2 separate regions of the Homo sapiens genome follow, and region 2 is linked to region 1. The links come from fine-mapping of genetic effects on gene expression. Tissue or cell type: sigmoid colon. Region 1 holds a variant in brackets; the other region holds the start of a gene. All regions are shown on one strand. Distances are from middle to middle.

Region 1 (10,442 bases):
TGTGTCACTGCTCTTGGTTTGAACTTTTGTGTGCTTTCTAGTAATTTTAAAATATATATTAATATATTATATGTTATATATTATATTAATATATTTTATATTTATATATTTAAATATATATAAATTATTTTTCTTTTACATTCCTGTTCAATTTCTATAGAATTTAATGAGTATAATGGGCTCCATCTAGTGGTCACAAGAACATCTCCAGATTCCAATGGTCAGCACAGAAACTTCAAGATCTTTATTTATAGGACATGACACATTTTATAATTGATAGACTCAGGTGGTTAAACTATGCTTTAAGAGAAGACTTCTAATTATTTTTTTCCTTTCATCAGTGGGTCTTACAAATTGGTTCTTAAGGTCCACTGCCCAAAACCATGCTTACCATCTTCTCTTCCAAATTGATCCCTCTTTGGGGATTTCCTGTTTCTGCGCAGCTTCCCCTCCCCAAAGGCATGCTGCTTCAGGCTTCTCTGTCTTCTCCTGTGCCCACCCACCCAGTTTGTGAGTTCTGTCCACCACATGACCCAGTGCCTCTCACAGCTGTTCCCGGCTATCAATTCTCATGGCCATTCGACAGGGCGTTATCAACCCTCCTCCCCGTGCCTGGCACCGTGCTGGATTTAGGGGATGCTGCAGTGAACCAGGCAAGCTGTCTCCTGCCCTGAGCACCCCCTCAGGGGCCCCTCTGTTGGAACCAAGTATGATCTAGTCTGTCCTTCATGCTGTTTCCAGAGCCCTCGTCTTAAAGCTAAATTCCACTCAGACACCATCAACTGTGTCCCATGGAATAAAGCCTCAATCTCTCCAGACCCTGGACTCACCCTCCCCTCCCACTGCCACCTTCCAAGCAAACAAGAGTTCCCACCGGTGCTCGGAGCTCCCCTCTGCCTCCACTCAGGATGTCAGTCTCTCAGAATGCATCCCCCATCCCAGGTGGCTAACCTGACAACCAGTCTTCAAAACCTTGCCCAATTATCATCTTCCCCAGGAAGGACCCTCCTCCAACCCAGATCCTCCTGACCCGAAGTGATCTCTCCTTGTAATTTCTGTAGGACTGGTGTTTCCTCAGGGCTCATCCTATTCTCCGCATCTGTTATGGGTCTTGTACCTCTCCTGCCTTCCTCTAACAACTGGGTCTGCAATTGCCTCTAAGAATCTTAGTCAATAGCTCCCCCAGGACCAGCACAAAATAGGGTAGGAGAGACGAATGAATGAATGAATGAATGAACAAATACCTATGCATAGTGAAGCGAGGGAATGGCAACCAGCCTCCAGAGTATTCTCGTGCCCCCCAAAAAATCAGACACACAAATGACCTCCTTTCACTTGGCAGAGTCTGACATACCAAGGTAGCTGCCTTATAGGCCACTCAATTTTGCCATAAACTCAAGTCGACTGAGATTTAATGCTTATAAATATATACGTGTATCATTTTAAAAAATTCTATAAAAAATAATCCCAAAAAGGGTAACAATTTCTTGCATTGAAATCCTATGAGAGGCTGGGCAAGGTGGCTCACCCCTGTAATCCCAGCACTTTGGGAGGGGATCTTTTGAAAGCAGGAGTTCGAGACCTGCCTGGGCAAAAAAGTGAGCTCCTAACTCACCAAAAAAAATTAAAAAAAAAAAAAAAAAAATTTTTTTCAGACAGAGTCTCACTCTGTCGCCAGGCTGGGGTGCAGTGGTGCGATCTTGGCTCACTGCAACCTCTACCTCCCGGGTTCAAGTGATTCTCCTGCCTCAGTCTCCTGAGTAGCTGGGACTACAGGCGCGTGCCACCACACCTGGCTAATTTTTGTATTTTTAGTAGAGGATTTCACCATGTTGGCCAGGATGGTCTTGATCTTCTGACCTTGTGATCCCCCCGCCTTGGCCTCCCAAAGTGCTGGGATTACAGGCGTGAGCCACTGCGCCTGGCCAGGAAAATTTTTTTTAATTAGCCATGGTGGCACACGCCTGTGGTCCCAGCTATTATCCCGGCTGAGGCAGGAGGATCACTTGAGCTCAGGAGTTCAAGGTTGCAGTGAACCGTGACTGCACCACTGCACTTCTGCCTGGCCGACAGAGTGAGATCCTATCTTAAAAAAAAAAAAAAAAAAAGTCCCAAGACAGCGTGTGCCCTTCGCTAGGCTCTTTTCCAGCCAACAAAGGCAGTAAGGCAGTAAACAGGCTGAATATGAGCAACTTTTACCACTTCTGTTCCGCTCTGTGACATTTTCCATAAACTATCAACGAAATGTATCAGGTTCTGTATAACTTCCACATTGTGCTTTCTACGGTCCTAAGTGGAGTTTCACTCCTCTACGCAAACTGCCAAATGTTTTGATGGAGCAGAGGATTTCTGACTTGCATTAAACTCTGGATTATTATTCATTTCTGGAAAATCACCCGACATTGCAAGTACAGTGCCCATCCTTGGAAACCAAGCACAATGTCTCTGCAATATTCTGCAAGGATCCAAAAAGACACAAAAAGAAAACGAAAAGGATGATACCATTCTGGAATGTTCCTGACAATGTCCAGGCAGTTTGAGCCTGGTTAGTAACAAGTGCAAACAGCGTGACGGGCAGAAGCCCAGCTCTGCTCGAGGCCTTCTGGGCACGTGGGTGGCTGATGAGGGTTCACGGCCACACACTTTCCTTTTCTGTTTCTCTCACTCCAGCATCGCCAGCATCTTCATACCCACGTCCTAGAAGAACGTGCCAGTAAAGTCTGCCAAGCCCTCGCTCTTCCCCTCCTGAAGATTCCCAGTGGCCTCCTACTCTGTGTCTCTTCTCCCTTCCTCTCTGGCAGCTCCCGACTGATGGCGACGGACCTAACAACAGACAAGCTCTGAGGACGCAGTGCCAGGCCTCGTTCTAAGCTGTCTGCACATGTGAACCCATTTGATCCTCAAAACCATCCCATGACACAGCTACTCTCAGAAACCCCACTTCACTTCACAGGTGGAAAACCGAGGCACAAGGAGGATAAGTGTGAGGTCACGGAGCCGGTGAGCAACAGAGAATCGGGCCACGCAGCCTAGATGGGAAGTCAACACACTTTCCCCTGGGCCACGCTGCCTCTTGGTGTGTTTTATTTTTTCCTTTCTTCTTTTTTTTTTTCTTTGAGATGGAGTCTCGCTCTGTCACCCAGGCTGGGGTGCAATGGCTCAATCTTGGCTCACTGCAACCTCTGCCTCCTGAGTTCAAGCAATCCTCCTGCCTCAGCCTCCTAAGTAACTGGGATTACAGGCGTGTGCCACTATGCCCAGCTAATTTTTGCATTTTTAGTAGAGACGGGGTTTCGCCATGTTGGCCAGGCTGCTCTCGAACTCCTGACCTGAGGTGATCTGCCCACTTCGGCCTCCCAAAGTGCTGGAATTACAGATGTGTGCCACCACGCCCAGCCCTCCTGGTGTGCTTTAAGTGGAGCCAACCCTTTGGTTACACCTTTGCAAACCACCTGGCGGTGACTGGGCCAGCCGTCACCGGAAGAGTCTGGTCACCTACTGCTTGTGCCCAGCTATATTCGTTCTCTCTTCTGGGAAAAGATCCTAATTTTTCATGAAGGAACCACCCTCCCCGACACCACATGCTTCTGGTATTGCCAACCCTCCCCCACTTTGTCTCCCCTGGTTCCAAGAATGGTCACATGATCCACCAATGACCTGGCCCATCAACGTGTCCCATGCTCCAAGTCAGTGCAATTTTTCAAGGAGAGGCACCTGCCCCAAGCCAGGCAAACTGGGATCCATTCTGGGACGTAAAAAAAAAAATCATGGTAAAATACATATAACATAAACCTGAGCATTTTAAAGCACGAAGTTCCAAGATTAAACACAACAACCATCCCCTCTATCCACTTCCAGGACTTTTCATCTTTCCAAACAGAAACGAGGTGCCCCTTAAACAATAACTCCCTGGGTTAGTGTCTGGGTGTGGACATAAAAAGGTACCACAGACTGTGCGGCTTAAAACAGCAGAAATGTGATAAGGTGCCGTCAGGCTGATTTCCTTCTGAGCTCATGGCTCAGCAAAAGTGTCTTCTCCACGTGTCTTCACATGGCCTGCCCTCTGCATGGGTCTACGTGTCCAAATCTCCTTTTATTACAGGGACAGCGGTCATGAGGGCCCACCCTAAGGCCTCATGTCACCTACTCTCCAAGGGAACATTGTTATCTCCAAACACAGTCCCATTCTGAAGCCCTGAGGGTTAGGACTTCAAGATACGAATATGGGAGGACACAGTTCAACCCATAACACTCCCCATGCCCCAATTCTGAGACTTTCGGGAAAGAACAGTGCTGTATCTGCTGGGGTTGCTGAGCACATGTGATATACACCTAGAGCTATACTGGCGGCCACCTTCCCAAGCATAGGTCACTCCAGCAGAGGCTGTCTGAAGACAAGCGGAGAAGAGCTGAGAGAGGAGAGCGAGCCCTGAGCCCAGATGGGCC[T/C]GAAGCCAGCTGCACCTCAGACCTTTCCATTTCTAGTTGTCTGCACTAAAAATTTCCTTTTTCGCTTTATTAGTGCAGGGTGATCAGAACACTAATTAATGTTCTGATGCTTGTAACCCAAAGAGTGAGTGAATGCAAGGGCCACAGTGACCCTTGGCTCCAGGACACGTGGAGTGGGACCACAGGGCAGTTATTTACAAGGCGGAGTCAAGACTCAAGTCCAGGTTCCCAGGCTCCAAGGTGCCGGCCCTCACCAGTTCCCTGGGATGCCCCCGAGTCACTACTGTTCACAGACGGTGGAGGCCGGACCATAGGGCAGCTCCCAGGGGGAGGCTTCAGGACCCACCTGGCCAGAGCCTCCCTGCAGGAACCTGTGTTTGCTGCGGTAAAGCCCAGCCTCTCCCCACAGACTGAGGGCTCCCGTCCTTCAGTCAATACCCTCAGGCCTGCAGCGTGCCTGGGAGAACAAAGCACGAGGAAGTCAGACAACAGGCTACACAGCAGGCCTTCTTCCCTCCATCACAGCACACACGCAGCCCTGTCTGAATAACACAGGGTCGGAAATGACCCAAACGTCCTTGGCGGGGACTGGCCAAGTGCATTACAGGACATTCCAACAGCATGGCCAGATTCTTTCCTGGACCAAAACAAGGCAGCAGCTATCTCGGATACACAGACGGGCACAGACCACCTCAAAGAGAAAGGGCAAACCCATGAACAAGGCAGCCCATGAAAAACAATGCGGGATAACTGTTGCGTTATTAAAAAAAAAGAAGGAGGAGGAGGAGTTACTACTTTAAAATTAGTTGAAATGGGCCAGGCATGGTGGCTCACGCCTATAATCCCAGTACTTTGGGAGGCCGAGGCGGGTGTATCACCTGAGGTCAGGAGTTCGAGACCAGCCTGGCCAACATGGTGAAACCCCGTCTCTAATAAAAATACAAAAATTAGCTGGGCGTGGTGGCAGGCATCTGTAGTCCCAGCTACTTGGGAGGCTGAGGCAGGAGAATTGCTTGAACCTGGGAGGTGGAGGTTGCAGTGAGCCAAGATCGCACCACTGCACTCCAGCCTGGGCAACAAGAACGAAACTCTGTCAAATTAAAATAAAATAAAATAAAATAAAATAAAATAAAATAAAATAAAAAAGCTGAGTGTGGTAGCTCATGCCTGTAGTCCAACACTTTGGGAGGCTGAGGCAGGTGGATCACTTGAGGTCAGGAGTTGGAGACCAGCCTGGCCAACATGATGAAACCCCGTCTCTACTAAAAAAACAAAAATTAGCCAGGCATGGTGATGGGAGCCTGTAATCTCAGCTACTCGGGAGGCTGAGGCAGGAGAATCGCTTGAATACGGGAGGCAGAGGCTGCAGTGAGCTGAGATCGCGCCATTGCACTCCAGCCTGGGCAACAAGAGTGAAACGCTATCTCAAAAATAAATAAATTAAAAAAATGAAAAGTAAAGTAAAATAAAATAAGACACAGGTCTGCCGTGGCAAAAAATTACCACAAGCCCTCCCAGTTCTAGGGGCAAGAAGTCCAAGGTGTCTGCGGGGCGGGCTCCTCAGGGAGAGTCCCTCCCACACCCCTCCATAGCTCTGGTGGCTGCAGGCATTTTGGTGTTTCTTGGCTGGCACACGCAGCACGCCAATCCCCACTCCGCTGTCACCTAGCCCTCTGGTCTGTGCGTCTCTGCCTCAAATCTCTCCTTGCCTCATTTAAGGACAATTGGCATTGGATGTAGACACACCCTAAATGCTGAATGACCTATTCTGAGATCCCTAATTACACCCGCAAAGACCCTATTTTCAAAGGTCACATTCACAGGTACTGGGGGTTAGGACTTGGACATATCTTTTGAGGGCGACAGGATTCAACCCACTACACTATTTTATTGAGGATGGGTGCAAGGCTCACCAGAGCCAGCTCAGGGCCCCCCGCCAGTCCTCCTGCCAGCGATATCCACTGGCTGGGGCGAGAGAGAAGCCCCTGCCACCACACTCAGCCTCGCAATGGGTGGCACATCCAGAAGAGCCGCCCCTCCTCTGGCCTTCCTTATCTGCCTGCTGCATGCTAGGATCCAACAAAAGATTCCGCTGACTCCCCGGGCTGCTAGGTGGGGAGCTGCGGCCAGCTATAATCAGACAGGGAGCCCCACTGCAGAATGTGGTCTATGTCTCCACACTCCAAAAGCCCGAGGGACACGCTGGAGAGCCTTGGAGCCTTGGAGCCGGGAAGAATAGGAATGAGTTAGGACTTCTGGTGTTGGAGACAGGGCCTCTGTTCTTTGTAAGACAAGGGGCTCATGGGCCGGCCTGCTGGGGTTTAGTGTTGATGAAGGTTCTGGTCTAAGGGGCTCTCGAGGTGACAGGAGAGAAAGTGCAGGCATGGACAGGGGTGTGCTGAGGGGTCTGGCTAGGGTCGTCATGCTGCACCCCAAGGCCACACTGACCACACCTACCAGGATGGCCTCCATCACAGCCTGGAGTTCCTGGGACAGCATCAGCACGGTGCTGATGATCAGGGCTCCCCAGGGAGCCGGGGAGTCTACCAAGCCTTCCTCTCGGTGGGACTAGAGGCTCTGACCAGCCCTTCAGTCCCCCATGGTCTTCCCAAGACCTTCTTGGGGGCCTCTTTCTAGAGGAGTTCAGGACCCCTGTTCCCTGCTCCCCACTCCTGATGGAAGGCAGGACACAGGTCCATCTGTAGTCACTGGCTTTAACTTATACCTTCTCCATAACCTCAGAAAGCCCCCCAGAGCCCGCTTCAAGATGTTATCATTTACTGATAAAGACCCTCAGTGCTAGTAAGGGGCAGACCCAAGATGTGGCTCCAGTTCTGATTGATCCGGGAGCTCCATGCCAGCTTGTGTCCCCCTTCTCCCACTCTCCAGCCATCATCTGTCTTGGGGACTTTCAAGCCTTCTGTTAGTAACCCACAGCAAGAAACCCATCTCACACCATCCAAGTCCAATCTACAAATATTAATAGCCAAAACCAAAATTTCACTCGGGCCTTTTTTATTCCAGACTTCTGTGCCAGCTCACAATTTCATGCTGGTGGTTGCTGGCGGCAACCCACTAAACGGATTTGGTGTCTCACAAATGGGGCGTGACTCCCAGTTCAAAAGACACACACAGGTATGCACCCAGTAACACTCAGAAAGAGGGGAGCGAAAAAGAAGGACTGTTGGCATTTTACACATTTTGCAGATCATCTAAAAATCCATTTGTGGATGTGAATTTTTCCTCCCATGTAATTGCAATTTCTGACTTTTTTTTTTTTTTGATGGAGTCTCGCTCTGTCACCCAGGCTGGAGTGCAATGGTGCAATCTCGGCTCACTGCAACCTCCACCTCCCAGGATGAAGCAATTCTCCCACCTCAGCCTCCCAAGTAGCTGTGACTACAGGCATGCGCCACCATGCCTGGCTAATTTTTTATATTTTTTGTAGAGACAGGGTTTCACCACGTTGGCCAGACTGCTCTCGAACTCCTGACCTCAGGTGATCCACCTGCCTCGGCCTCCCAAAGTGCTGGGATTACAGGCGTGGGCCACCGCGCCCGGCCACAGTTTCTGACTTCTTGATCTGTGAATGGAGTCATTCCCTTGTCAAATCCTCTTTCTCGTATTAAAATCTCAGAGGTCCTATAAAGGCTAGCTCAAGCTCAACCATAAAATTCTTCTCCCACCTGGCCCTCAGAGACGGAATTTTCACACCATGAGATATACCTTTGCAGAAATCTCGGGGCATCTCCCAACCCTGGGATGTTTTCAGTGAGTTTGGTTTCCGGACACTTGGCTAATGGAAGGAATGAGAGAGAAGACAAGGGACACTGCGCAGCTCCTGTCTTCTCTGGACCAATAACAAAAGTCACCTTTCCCTGCATGTCGAGAAGTCTGAGACACATCACTCAAAAGCCACCTTTCCCTGCACGTCGAGAAGTCTGAGACACATCACCCAAAAGCCACCTTTCCCTGCACATCGAGAAGTCTGAGACACATCACCCAAAAGAGACCTTTCCCTGCACGTCGAGAAGTCTGAGACACATCACCCAAAAGTCACCTTTCCCTGCAGGTCGAGAAGTCTGAGACACATCACCCAAAAGTCACCTTTCCCTGCACGTCGAGAAGTCTGAGACACATCATCCAAAAGTCACCTTTCCCTGCACGTCGAGAAGTCTGAGACACATCACCCAAAAGCCACCTTTCCCTGCATGTCGAGAAGTCTGAGACACATCACCCAAAAGAGACCTTTCCCTGCACATCGAGAAGTCTGAGACACATCACCCAAAAGTCACCTTTCCCTGCACGTCGAGAAGTCTGAGACACATCACCCAAAAGTCACCTTTCCCTGCACGTCGAGAAGTCTGAGACACATCACCCAAAAGTCACCTTTCCCTGCACGTCGGGAAGTCTGAGACACATCACCATTTTCCACTCATCCACTGGTATCAGACACCATTCTAAGGGAGGGTCATTCTAACCCTGAAAACACCAGTGTTAGAGACCACACACTGGGCCATGGCCTGTGCAAAGCTCCCCTGAGGACACCCAGGAGACCTGTTATGAGCCTGGATTTGAGCCATGTGGATTAGAAGTCAACAATTCCTGGTTTCATTCACAGCCATCCTGGTCTGCACCAGCAAAACCAAAGAGAGTCTATGATAATTTGAATAATTCAGACCTCATTGCCTGTTTCCTTCCTCTGCCTCCACCGCAAGAAATGAAAACAAGAAGGCTACGTCCACTATTTATCTACCTTCTGCACGTCTGACATAGAGCTCTGGTTGCAATGTTGGTACAGTGGTGGCAACTGGGGTTCCAGGCTGTCACCTCCCATCAGTTCACACCCCTTTCTCCATCTTTGAAATGGGCCAGCTGCTACTTCCCTACCATCTAAATCTTCAGGCAGCTAAGTCATCTCCGACAATGTCTTAGCTCCTCCACCAATACCACCCAGCAAACCGAGTCCGTTTACTTTGCTGGAAACCGACCAGAGAGCCTGCCAGGGTCAATGTGGGAAAGAAAGGCCCCAGGCCAGTGCACGAAGACGACAGCCTGACACCCCAGTCCACCTTCCGGACCATGCTGTTCTCAGCAATCCCAAGCAAACGGCGGCCGAACGCAGGAGCCAGAAGGGAGCTCAACCTTCACTTACCTGGGGGGCAGACACATTCGGATGGAGCTTCCCGAGCAGTCCGGATCTTCGCTAGTCCGTCCAACTTCTGAGCCGGAAAAAAAAAAAGAAAAAAAACGAGGAGAGAATGAGTTTCAGAACAGAGAGGGGTAAAAGTGGAAACATCAGCAAAAACAAATGTATCTAAACCATCTACAGTGCTGGGGCTGTCTGTGAGACCATCTCTCAAAAGATCCTTAAACTCTACAGGGAATTTTAGAATGAGGAAAAACAAACACAAACACTAAACAGTTACTGGTGAGTCCCTGAAAAGGTGGCAGGTTTCTGCTTTGTTACAGCATTTTCAAATAGAATACCAAGAGTTACGACAGAAACAGCGTCCTGCAAGTCAAAAGCCACAGCGACCACCAGCCCTGCAGGGAGGGAGGCTGGGGCTGAGGGAGGCCTGGAGAGGGCAGATCAAAGTTAATGCTCCAGGCGGCTTTCTGCACTCACAAGGCCACCCCGTCCACACCCGGGAAGTCCCAAAACCCCATGGCTGCAGCCCCTCCTAGCCCACCAGCCTGGGACCTGATGGCCCGGGTTGAATCACCCTGATGAAAACATTTTCCTTTGTTGTTTTCTGTTTTCCATTTTCCTTTCCTCTTACCAGTGGGGATCCTTGGCCTAGAAAATTTGGTTCGGTAAAATTTAACAAGAATCCCTACACATGCCCAGCCCTGTGCCAGATTTGGGTGAGAGGAAAAGAATTACCACAGAACGAGGGTCAAAAGGCACAGCTCCCCTACAATGCAGGGACTGCTCTGGCAGGCTCCTGGCCCGATGGAACCCTATGGGCACCCCTGAGGCCAGAACAAACGGT
Region 2 (10,442 bases), 35 kb after region 1:
AAATTTTCAAAGCCGATGTGGAAAAGTCCAATCCAAAATGACAAAATATGTCTGTGAAAGGAACGCCCCAATCCTTGGCTCATTCTAAACATGCTACTATTATTATAAAGCTCTCCCAAACTGTTGCAAGGAAAAAAAAAAAAGGACAAGAAAAGAGTGGAGAGAGAAAGTGAACATGCCAAGAAGTCATTGAAAGGAAACTTTTTTTTGTTGTTTTGGGAGCCAGGAAATGTCAAGGAAACAAATGTAGCTATGATTTACACTGCATCTCCAGTTGTGCCATGGAATTCAAAAATAGGCATCTTAATTAAAACTGACAGCAGAGAGCAGCCCTGACAAGTAGACAAACCACCAAAGAGGCTGAAAAATCTCCATTTGACTCTGGGTTGACAGTATTTAACCAATATACAGAGTTGATAAGAGAAAAGGAAAATGCGTAAACTTTACTCGAGTCTCTGGGCTTTTCTTGTTTTCAAACTGATTGGTCTGGACAATGGAAGGCCAACAGCCAACAATAAATCCATTGTAAGCTGGCATGGTCTCCTCTGAATACAACTAAATATTTCTTTAATCCTTGCATTACATTTTTTACTGTATTATGAAAGCCATGTATTCTAAAGTTTTAAGCTTTTATAACATTGTAACTATAGGTATAAGATGGGGGGATTGATTACTTAGGCAACCTATTTAAAGCACTTTAAGAGGAAAATATTAGATTTTTTTGCATGAATATTTTCACATCATAGTGAAGATACGATCGTTCATGGCTCTTACTCAGAAATCTTGTTTATCTCTTCCTTTGTGTGCCATGGGAAGGGTCTTTAATGATCATGAGTTGACATGAATATTCCTTTCTTGTAGCTTCTGTATCTTCATTATCGGGCACATCAGCCGGTCCCAGAAAAAGTTATTTCACAGTTCTGTTCCCAAGGGAACAAAGAGAGTGGGTCCCATATTCACAGTGGCTTTTGTTGGCTTCTTTCCCCCTGACATTAAAGCCATGTATGGTTGGCAAGGATGTCTTTTCTTTAATGTGGACATGGTTTCTGCCTCTGGTTCTCTGGAAACAAGTTTGCTGTAGGACAAGCTGCCCGCACACTCACATACACGGAAAAGAGGCTTCACTGAGAACAAATCAGAACTGAAAAACAGCTTCAAGTACAAATGTTCTTTTCTTCCGAGATTTTGAGTTCAATATTTATTTGGCTTTCATATCTAATGGCTTGAAAAAGTATCTATACATCTAATTAGAGTTAATTACTCACTCCCTGTATGTGCCTCCCACAGTGCTCTCCTCCCAGCCAAGGAACTCATTGTTACCGGCCAGGCTGTGTACATTTCCCATCCAGTGACATTTACAAGAAGAATAGCTCCTAGCAGAAACAGGCTGGTACCCTAAGAGAGAGAAGCTGTCTCACAGGGGCCACCCAAACAACCAGAAGTTCAGCCCCAACTGCATTCATACTGCACCATCTCTGACTCTCCACTGGCGGGAAAACCCAGCCAGCTTACACTCCACGCACAGCATGCGCCTCAGATACCCAGCTGGGATTAGCGAGCAGGACCACGTGTGAATGGCACGGCAAATTCTCCAGAATACAGGGTTCCCTGGATTCTAAATTTTTCTCTTGCCTTTCTAATCAAGAACAGAGAGAGAGAGAGAACACACACCCTGTCCAATAACTCATTGTTCAAGCACTGTAGTTCACCCAGGTAAAATTCAGTGCAGCCGGGAGGGGGGAAGCCTGGGAGAGCAACTGCAGTCTCTCCCGCTGAAGTTCAGGACTCAAAAATCAACACTTCCCAGCAGTGGCTGCCTGCCCAGGATGCCCCTCCCTCCTAAAATAGACACAATTTGTAGTTCCTTGTAAAATGGTTGTATCAGGACTTCTGATTTACTCAATCAGGGCTTGCGGTTTATTTTTAGCAAATAAGAGAGGCCTCCTATGAGAAAGAGCAGCCACACTTATAGCGCTAACAGGTAGAAACTTTACTGGCCCTCTATAAATCAATTCAACACCCTGGTCTCCAGGCATTTGCCAAAAGCTAATGGGCGGCAATTATGAAACCATCGCCAGGAGTTTCCAGCAGGGCTGAGAGAGAGTTTTAAGTCTGCAGGCCCTTTCAAGGGTAAAATAGGAAATCATTTCATGAAGCAGCAATTTTACCCAGAACCCAGCTAGAAGAGATGTGATCCTAGCTTAAATTAAAGTGACTAAGAAACAGGTGGGGTGAACAAGGAGGTGTGGTACGCAAGTCATCTTCTCCCACTTTCCTTTGGAATCCAAAGGAACTCAACATTGGAAACACAGCTGGATACGTTAATAAAGATCCCAGCTGGGCAGTCTAGGGAATTGGGGGTGTACAGGCCAGTGCTCCCTCTCCTCCACCTTGAAACCCTGCCTGTTTTCACACAGCAATTGAGGATGCGCCCTTGGACAGCGACCTTGGGGTCTGGAGCAGCCATCTATCCCAGGAGAAGGAGGAAGGCTCGGCAGGGGAGGCTCTGGCCAGCCCACCAGGGCCTGTCCAGTTTCGTGGGGAGGGGAACTGCCGCACATGCCGCACACAAAAGGCGGAGGCTTTGACCAACATGCTGGGTGAGGGCTTGGAGGACCCAAAGGTGGCTCTTTCTTTGAAGACACACAGCAGCAATCTTAACCCTTAGAAGTGTCACAGAGCCTCATATGAGCTTTCAAGTAAGCTGTGGAAGTCGCGATTCCCAGGTAAGGGACGGGAAACTCCGGATGTCCTGCGAGCCCACACCCCAGATGGCACCGCCTGAAACCAGAATCCAGGTCCTCCACCCCCGATTGTTTCTCCTTCCTCTCATCTTACCAAGTCATGTGGGCGCCCCCACCCCCATCCCCGAGGCCTCAGTGCGACGGTGACCGCTCAGTCTTGGGGCCTGAGCTGCTGGAGACACACTGGAGCACAGCGGGGCCCAGCCCTCGGGCCTGTCTGAGGCTTTCCTCCGCCGTGACCACCGCCTCTCCAGGTGTACCAGCGTTGGTTAGGAACAGTAGGTGCTACTGGTCACAGTCACCAGATACTTCCCACGAGCCTCATCTTTATCCCCGACTCTGGCCGCCGGCGGGAAGCGGCGTGTCCGAGCGCACACCCCGTGGAGACTGACCCTAGGTCTGTTACTCCAAAGTCCCTGGTCTCTCCTTCCCCTTTCTCGCGGCCGCCTGCCTGGCACGGGACCCTGAGGCCGGAGCGGAGACCGCAAAACCCCTTGGGGCCGGCACCCCCTGCCTCCGCCTTGGCGCAGACGTGCCCATCTCTGGGACGGCCCCGAGCGCACGCAGCCGGCGGGCGACCCTCCTCCCAGAGACCTGCACGCTGCCCCCGGCTCCCAGCGTACCGCCACCCTCAACCCGACACACCCAAGTCCGCCCCAGCCACGCGCCAAGACGCTCACCTCCCGCAGCAGGCGCTCCAGGTGCGGCTCGGCCCAGGCGTCCAGGGCGCCTGGCGGCCCCGCGCGCCGCAGCAGCTCCCGCTCCTCCTCGAGCGCCGCCACCCGGCCCTGCAGCGCGGCCGCCTGGACACCCAGCAGCAGGCAGGCAGCCGCCGAGCCCACGGAGAGCAGCAGGCACAGCGCGCTCACCGCCCGGGACCCGGCCGTCGTCGCCGAGCGCCCTCCGCCGCCGCCGCCCGCCGCATTGCCCTTCCCCGCGTCGCCGCCGCCACCGGCGCGCTCGCCTGGGCCCATGGCGCGTTCGTCGCGCGTGGACTCTCCGAGGGGGCGGTGCTGCTGGGGCAGAGGCTGGGTGCGAGAGGAGCAGGCGGGACAGCCCGAGGCACGAGGTCCGCCGGGCGCGGGGGTTAGCCTCCGGGTAGCAGCGGATCGCCGCGCACGCCCCCTTCGCCGCAGCCAGCTCCTCCACAGCGGCCACTTTGGGCAGTTTCCTCTATGCAAATAGACCCTGCCAGAAAAGGAGCAGGGACCCACCCAGGGGAGGAGCGGCCGGGCTGGCCCCGCGCGGCGAGGGGGCGGGGGCGAGGAAGGAGCGAGCTCCTCGGAGCCACCCGTCGGCGCCGGGCTGATCCCACGCGCAGCGCGCACCTCTGCCCTCACCTAGCCCGGGCGCCGGCACCCGCCCCCGCACGCACCTCTGAGGCTTCCCCAGCCCAAGCCCGCACTGTGGACCCCAGAGGTCGGAGGGGAGCCCGGCGACACCGCGCCCCTTCTGCAGCCCACCCCTGGCTGGAGCACCCACCACTCGTGCCTTAGCACATTCCTCTAAACTTGTGAATTACCTTTCTGACACTTGTAAAAGTTCAAAACTTCAAATCCTGCAAAAAACTGAGTGGGTCTGTCCTCGGTGGTGGATTAGCGCCGCTTCGTGGCGGAAAGCGACCTCTGCGCACTCACATTTAGAGAGGCAGGGTCGAGATTGCGCCAAACAGAAATACGCCCCTTAGAATCTTCTCACGAGTTCTTAGCTGCCGGACTTCGGTGCGGGAAACAAAAATGGTAAGACTGTTTCTGGCCTGGAGAGGGCTTTTGAGAAAACTGAGACTATAACGAATGGGAAAGATTCAGAAAATGAACTTCAAGTCTTGTTCAACTGATGACTTAATTCTGTATTAGACGCACAACTTGGCCAAAAATTATGATCTAGTATGCACCACACTTAACCTGTACTGCGATTCTGCTGCAAATTTAAATCACAGGGCTGAGGCAAGAAGGCTGTGGCGTACAGCCTGGGTCCAGAGAACAGAATGAGTGGCACTAACAAGTCTTGGCAGGAAAGGGAAGAACTGCTGGAAGTCAGGCTGGGTTCAGATTCCTACCAGGCATATTCATGTCCTAAATGGGTCCCAAGTAACTCTTTCGCTAACTCCTGTAATACCTAAATGAAACAACAAACCAGCAGTTCAGATCTTTGTGATTTGAGTAACCCCCCAACCATTTTTTTTTAAGAAAAATAACGTTATATCCATCTTCCCTCTCACTCTGGATATCTTCTGGTTGTCTCATTTCTGTGGATACTCACCTTTTAGAACTGTTGAGTGCCTCTGGCTAACATGTTCCATCTCCTTCCCTTAATTCAGAGGGGAACCCCTGAGATGGCCGGGGGTTATGGTTGATAGACTTGGCTCTGTGCTAAAGTCTGGTGTATGCCCAATAGAATGAAAAGTTGGCCTCATTCTGAAAAGAGGCCAACACCCTCTTACAAGTCAGCACTACATTTCTTACAGGCACATAAACTGCACACCACCTACCTATGTTAATGTTACTGCATGTATTGTTTGCCATGTTCCTGAAGCTTCTGTGTATTGAAAAAGCCAAGCTCACTGGCCCCTGGGCCTCTGCCCTTGCCTACCACCTCACTACCTGCATTCCTGCTCTCAGATCGTTAAACGGCAAGCCCCTCCTCATCCTCCAGGTCAAGGTCCTCAACCTCACTGCTTCTAAAAGATCTTCCCAGACTGCCCAATTTAAGGTGGCCCACAAGATTAATCAGGGAATTGGGGCGGCTGAATTAAGATGGAAATACTGTCTGCAACTCATTCTAAAAGGCGAAAAAGAAAATGACTTACTTGTGTCCATTAGGGTCCTGGAAGAATAGATGGCATCCTCAGAGAGGGTGACTCAAGACAGCCTGAATGTAGAGCCACTTCACAAAGTGGAGATCAGAGGGGCCAGCAGGGGAGGCCGAAGCAGCACTCTGCGGGTATTGACAGTGGGAGGCCATTACCATCCCTAACTGGGAACCCTGGGGAACTTGGAGCTATAGAAGAGGGCTGCTCCACAGCACCTGTGGCCCTTGGTTAAGGGGAACAGCCTCTGCAAAGCCATGGCTTGAAAGGGAGGGAGCTCACAGAATAAATACTCAACTGCTCTCTCCTGCTCTCTGATCTACTGGGGCCTTCCAATGACCAAACCTCCAGGGCAGGGGCCAGCCTCCTAGAGGGCAGAGAGCAGAGGCAGAAGGAAGAAGGGCAGATCTTGAGGGGGAATAAAAGAATATCCACTAACCTATCGTGTGTAGCATCACCTAACAGGTAGACAGCACTTACACCAATCCCGCTACTGCTGCCTATGAATGGCTAACCTGTCAGCAATAGACTAAACAAGGTACTCCTCAGGCAGACTAACTGGCCACGTGGTGGCAAAACAGCTACTTTGGATTCCCTCCTTCCTGCAAGGACCAATGGTTTGCCCCTCACAGGGACAGCACCAGGTGTGGGCTTGTCTTTCCTGCCTGCAGAGCCTCAGCCAGCATTGCTATCCTTACAGAATGCCCAACCCACAGGTACAGGATCTCACACACCACCACACCCAACCAGGGCACCCATTTTACAGTAAAGGTCTGGGGCTGAACCCATGGACCAAGGAATCCACTGGTTGTGTTGCATCCTGCACTGGTCAGGAGCAACCAGCCTCACAGAATACTGGAACTGCCTTCTGAAGGCACAGATGAAGCACCAGCTCAGGGGCCACTCCCTGAAGGATTTAGTGCCATCTCTCAGGATGTAGTGTGTGTGTTAAATCAGGAACCTCTATATGATGCTGTGCTCCCAGTAAGAATACGTGAGTCCATGAACCCACAGGTAGAAGCACTAGCCATCCCTCCCCATGACCCCATGGGGGATGTTATGCTTCCTGTTAGAGAGTTGGAGGTCCTAGTTCTCAAAGGGGTTACATTCTTGCCAGGGGACACAGTAGGGGTTCCATTAAACTATAAGCTATTGCTGCCACCCAGGGCACTTTGAACTCTGTATATAGGGACCTGAAATCAAGACAGCACCATTTGGCAGAGGCAATTGACCCTAATGAGGAGGAAGAGGTAGGGCTGCTTTCATACAGGGTGCAGGAAAGAATAGGCCAGGCACCTCATGGTACGCCTTTGCCCAATTGCAACTGGAACAAAAATGTGTAGCAACCCTGACCTGATGATCTACAAACGCTCAGACTCTTGGAGATAAAGGGAGCATATCAAACTATTTTATAAAATAGGGATTATTTGGGTCAGATAGGATGGACAACCACTGAAGAAGGAATGTTAATAATGAAAAGGTTCAAATATGTTCAAACTGCTGTTCAAGAAGGCATGGATATGTAATCCAGTTTATAAAAATTTTCAGCAGAAAATTGTTTAAATTAAGCCACAAGGTTTAAAGGGATAGCAAAGGGTGTTGTGTTTTTTTTATATAAGGTAATGTTATTTAAAAAAATTTTTTTAAGAAGGCAATGTTAAAAAAGGCACCAGGTTTTGATTCAATGCCCAGATTCTAGTTCTGGCTTCACTAATATCTCACAGTATAAACTGAAACAAGCTATAGACCCTCACTTTTTATTTATTTATTTATTTATTATTATTATTTTTTTTAGAGGTGGGGGTCTCGCTATATTGCCCAGGCTGCTCTTGAACTCCTGGGGTCGAGCAATCCTTCTGCCTCGGCCTCCCAAATGCTGGGATTACAGGGGTGAGCCACCATGCCTGGCCACCTTTTTGTTTTTAAAACAGAGATGTTGACATGGACCAGATTTACTATCTGACTATTTAAAACAACTAAAAAGCCAAAAAAAAAAAAACTGTATAAAAACAGCAGTTTTCGAGACACCAGACATCAGGCATTAAAGGCCAGTGATCCTTTGGAGACAGGAAACAAAGTGAACCCAAGGACTGCCCTGGGTTCCTACTCTGGAGAGATTTTCCAGGACACAGTGCAGGTAGAGCCAGCTGAAGGTGAAGAGAGAAAGCTGAGTCCAGGGAGGCCAAAGCAGTTAGAATTTACAGAGGAGAGGACAGGAGAGGGAAGAGCTGCACAGAGAATTAGAGATCTGCAGCTGGTCCCCCTGAAGCCTTCACCTGAGGACTCACCAGCATCCATGTGTGGGGAAACTACCAGAGGCCAGGACGGAATAACCCAAAAGGATTAGACTCTACAAACCCCACAGCTCACACAAAGCCAGGCATAGTTCTTCCTACCAACCAGTGTGGAAAATCTGGTAACTCAGAGAACGCTGGGTAGAGTACTCAAAAGGTTTTTGCCTCGGTAGTGGGGAAAATACTAGCCCTAGACTAATTGCTGCCCTGGTCCTGTCTAACAAAGCTTAAAACCCAAACCTGAAGAGATCAAACTAATTCAAATACTTAATCATGTCCCACAATAAAGCACACAGAATTTTACCCAATAAGGTAAAACAAAAGGTAAAATTACCAGGCATGCAAAGCAGCAAGAAAATATGACCCATAATAGAAGAAAATGCAATCAATCAAAACCAACCCAGAAATAACAGAGATAACAGAATTAGTAGTAAGCAAAGCTATTAAAAGCTGTAACTGTATTCCATATGTTCAAGGAACTAAAGGGAAGATTTAACATGTTAAGTAGAGGTATGAAAGATATCTTTTAAAAAGACTTAAAATTCTAGAAATTAAAACGATAATGTTTGAGGTGAAAAATACATTGGATCACATTAAAGGCAAATTAGACACTTGGGGCAAAAGATCAATGAACTTAAAAATATATCAATATAAGCAAAATGAAACAGTGAGAAAAAGACAAAAAAATGAAGAGCGTCAGTGATCTGTGCAATCACTTCAAGTGGCTTAATGTATGTATAACTGGAGTCCCTGGGGAAGAGGGCAGAAAAAAATGTTTGAATAATGGCTGAAAAACTTTTCCAAATTTGATAAGAACTATAAACCCACACACATATCCAATAATTTCAAGAAACCCATGCACAAGAAACATGAAGACAACTGCACAAGCCACATTATAATCAAAATGCTTGAAATGAGCAAAAGAAAACAATGTAACCAGAAAAAGAGACACAAATACAGTAACAAGGATAACAGCAGATTTCTTTGTTGGAAACAATGCAACCCAGAAGATAGGTAAGCAACATCTTTTGTCAACCTAGAATTTTATACCCAGCAAAATTACCTTTCAAAAAACAAAGGCTAAAGAGAGACTTCTAGACATACAAAAGCTGAAAAAATTCATCCACCATCAGACCCACAATTTTAAAAATGTTAATGGAAGTAATTCAGGCAGAAGGAAAACCATGCCAGATGGAAATATGAACTTACACAAGGACTGAAGAGCATAGAAAATACTAACTCTGTGGGTAAATATAGGCTTCTTTTCTTATTATTTAAATCTCTTTTAAAGATAATCAATGGTTTAAAGCTATATATATACACACACACATATACACATGCATATATACATATATACGTATGTATACACATATACGTATATAGATATGTATGTATATATAGTGGGTTTTTAACATGGACGGTTTTTAACAAGGATGTATACTATAAACTCTAACGCAACTGCTAAACACACACAATAGTTATAGCTAATAAGCCAGCAAAGGAGATAAAGTGGAGTTACAGAAAAATAATCCAAAATAAGGCAGAGAAAGAGGAAAATAGTAATAAAGAACAAATGGAACAGAAAATATCAAGATGGCAGATCTAAACCAAACCACATCAACAACTACACTAAATGTAAGTGGTCCAAACATAACTAAAAGGCAAAGATTGTTAGATAGGATAAAAAAGCAATATCCAACTGTATACTGCCTATAAGAAACATTTTAAAGACACAAAAAATTAAAAGTACACACATAGAAAAAGGTATTGTGCTAACATTAAAATCGAGATAATCTCTATTTGCACTCACTCATTTATATAATTCCTATAGGGTGAAAAGCAAAATAACAGGAAAATTATTTGTAGGCTATAGAATACTGTATAAACCTAGGGGGAATAGATCAAGAAACGGTGAAAATAATAGCTTCTATTCACTAGCACTTTATGTAAATGATTTCAATTAATCCTCACAACCCTCAGGAAGTTGTTAGTACACCACTTCAAAGAAGAGGAGACTAGAGAGATTATGTAACTTGTCCACATAATACAGGTGACAACAGAGTCTGAATCCAACGAACTCTGCTGGTAAGCAGACCATATTGTTCTCATGTAGTTGTTGTGAGGACACTCTAAATATTTAAATGTTTCTAGAGTAATCTGAAAAGTATAAATAGTGAGGTCTTTTAAAAGTAAACTTCCCTATCAACGAGATACTCTAAATATCATAAAGGCTTGCTTTGGTCATTCTCAAAACCGTACTTCCTCATGTTGTCTTTAGCTAGGGGTAAACCAAGAAGCTTTTGAAGACACTTGATTTTTTCTGCTTTAAAAACTGTTTATAATGGAAAAATTTTTAAGTCACCTGAGTGGCTGGGGCAGGGGGATCTTCCAAAAATCTATTAAACTTTACTTCATTTTGTTACACTGACTGCTGGCCTATGACATTCCAGCCTCAAAGGGTATTTAATTCAGGTGTTCTTTATTAAATCTATGCCTCAGTCTTTTTTTTTTTTTTTTTGAGATGGAGTTTTGCTCTTGTTGCCCAGGCTGGGGTGCAATGGTGCAATCTCGGCTCATTGCAACCTCCACCTCCGA

Evidence for each region. PIP is the estimated chance that this variant, and not a neighbour inherited with it, causes the effect.
Region 2: it holds the start of COL23A1, and the variant in region 1 is fine-mapped to the expression of COL23A1 in sigmoid colon (GTEx, PIP above 0.99).

Annotation. Positions count from the first base shown.
Region 1 is chr5:178,551,081-178,561,522 of GRCh38, forward strand. It overlaps COL23A1 (collagen type XXIII alpha 1 chain), which reads right to left. Exons shown (of 29, transcript NM_173465.4): 2 at 9,602-9,668. Among named protein-coding and RNA genes, the nearest start is that of COL23A1, 34 kb to the right of the region's middle. RefSeq lists an enhancer at 2,953-3,511. The variant T/C (reference allele first, on the strand shown) is at 4,447.
Region 2 is chr5:178,586,480-178,596,921 of GRCh38, forward strand. COL23A1 (collagen type XXIII alpha 1 chain) reads right to left here and starts at 3,914. Exons shown (of 29, transcript NM_173465.4): 1 at 3,425-3,914. The coding sequence starts at 3,718. RefSeq lists an enhancer at 2,360-3,260 and a silencer at 3,916-4,115.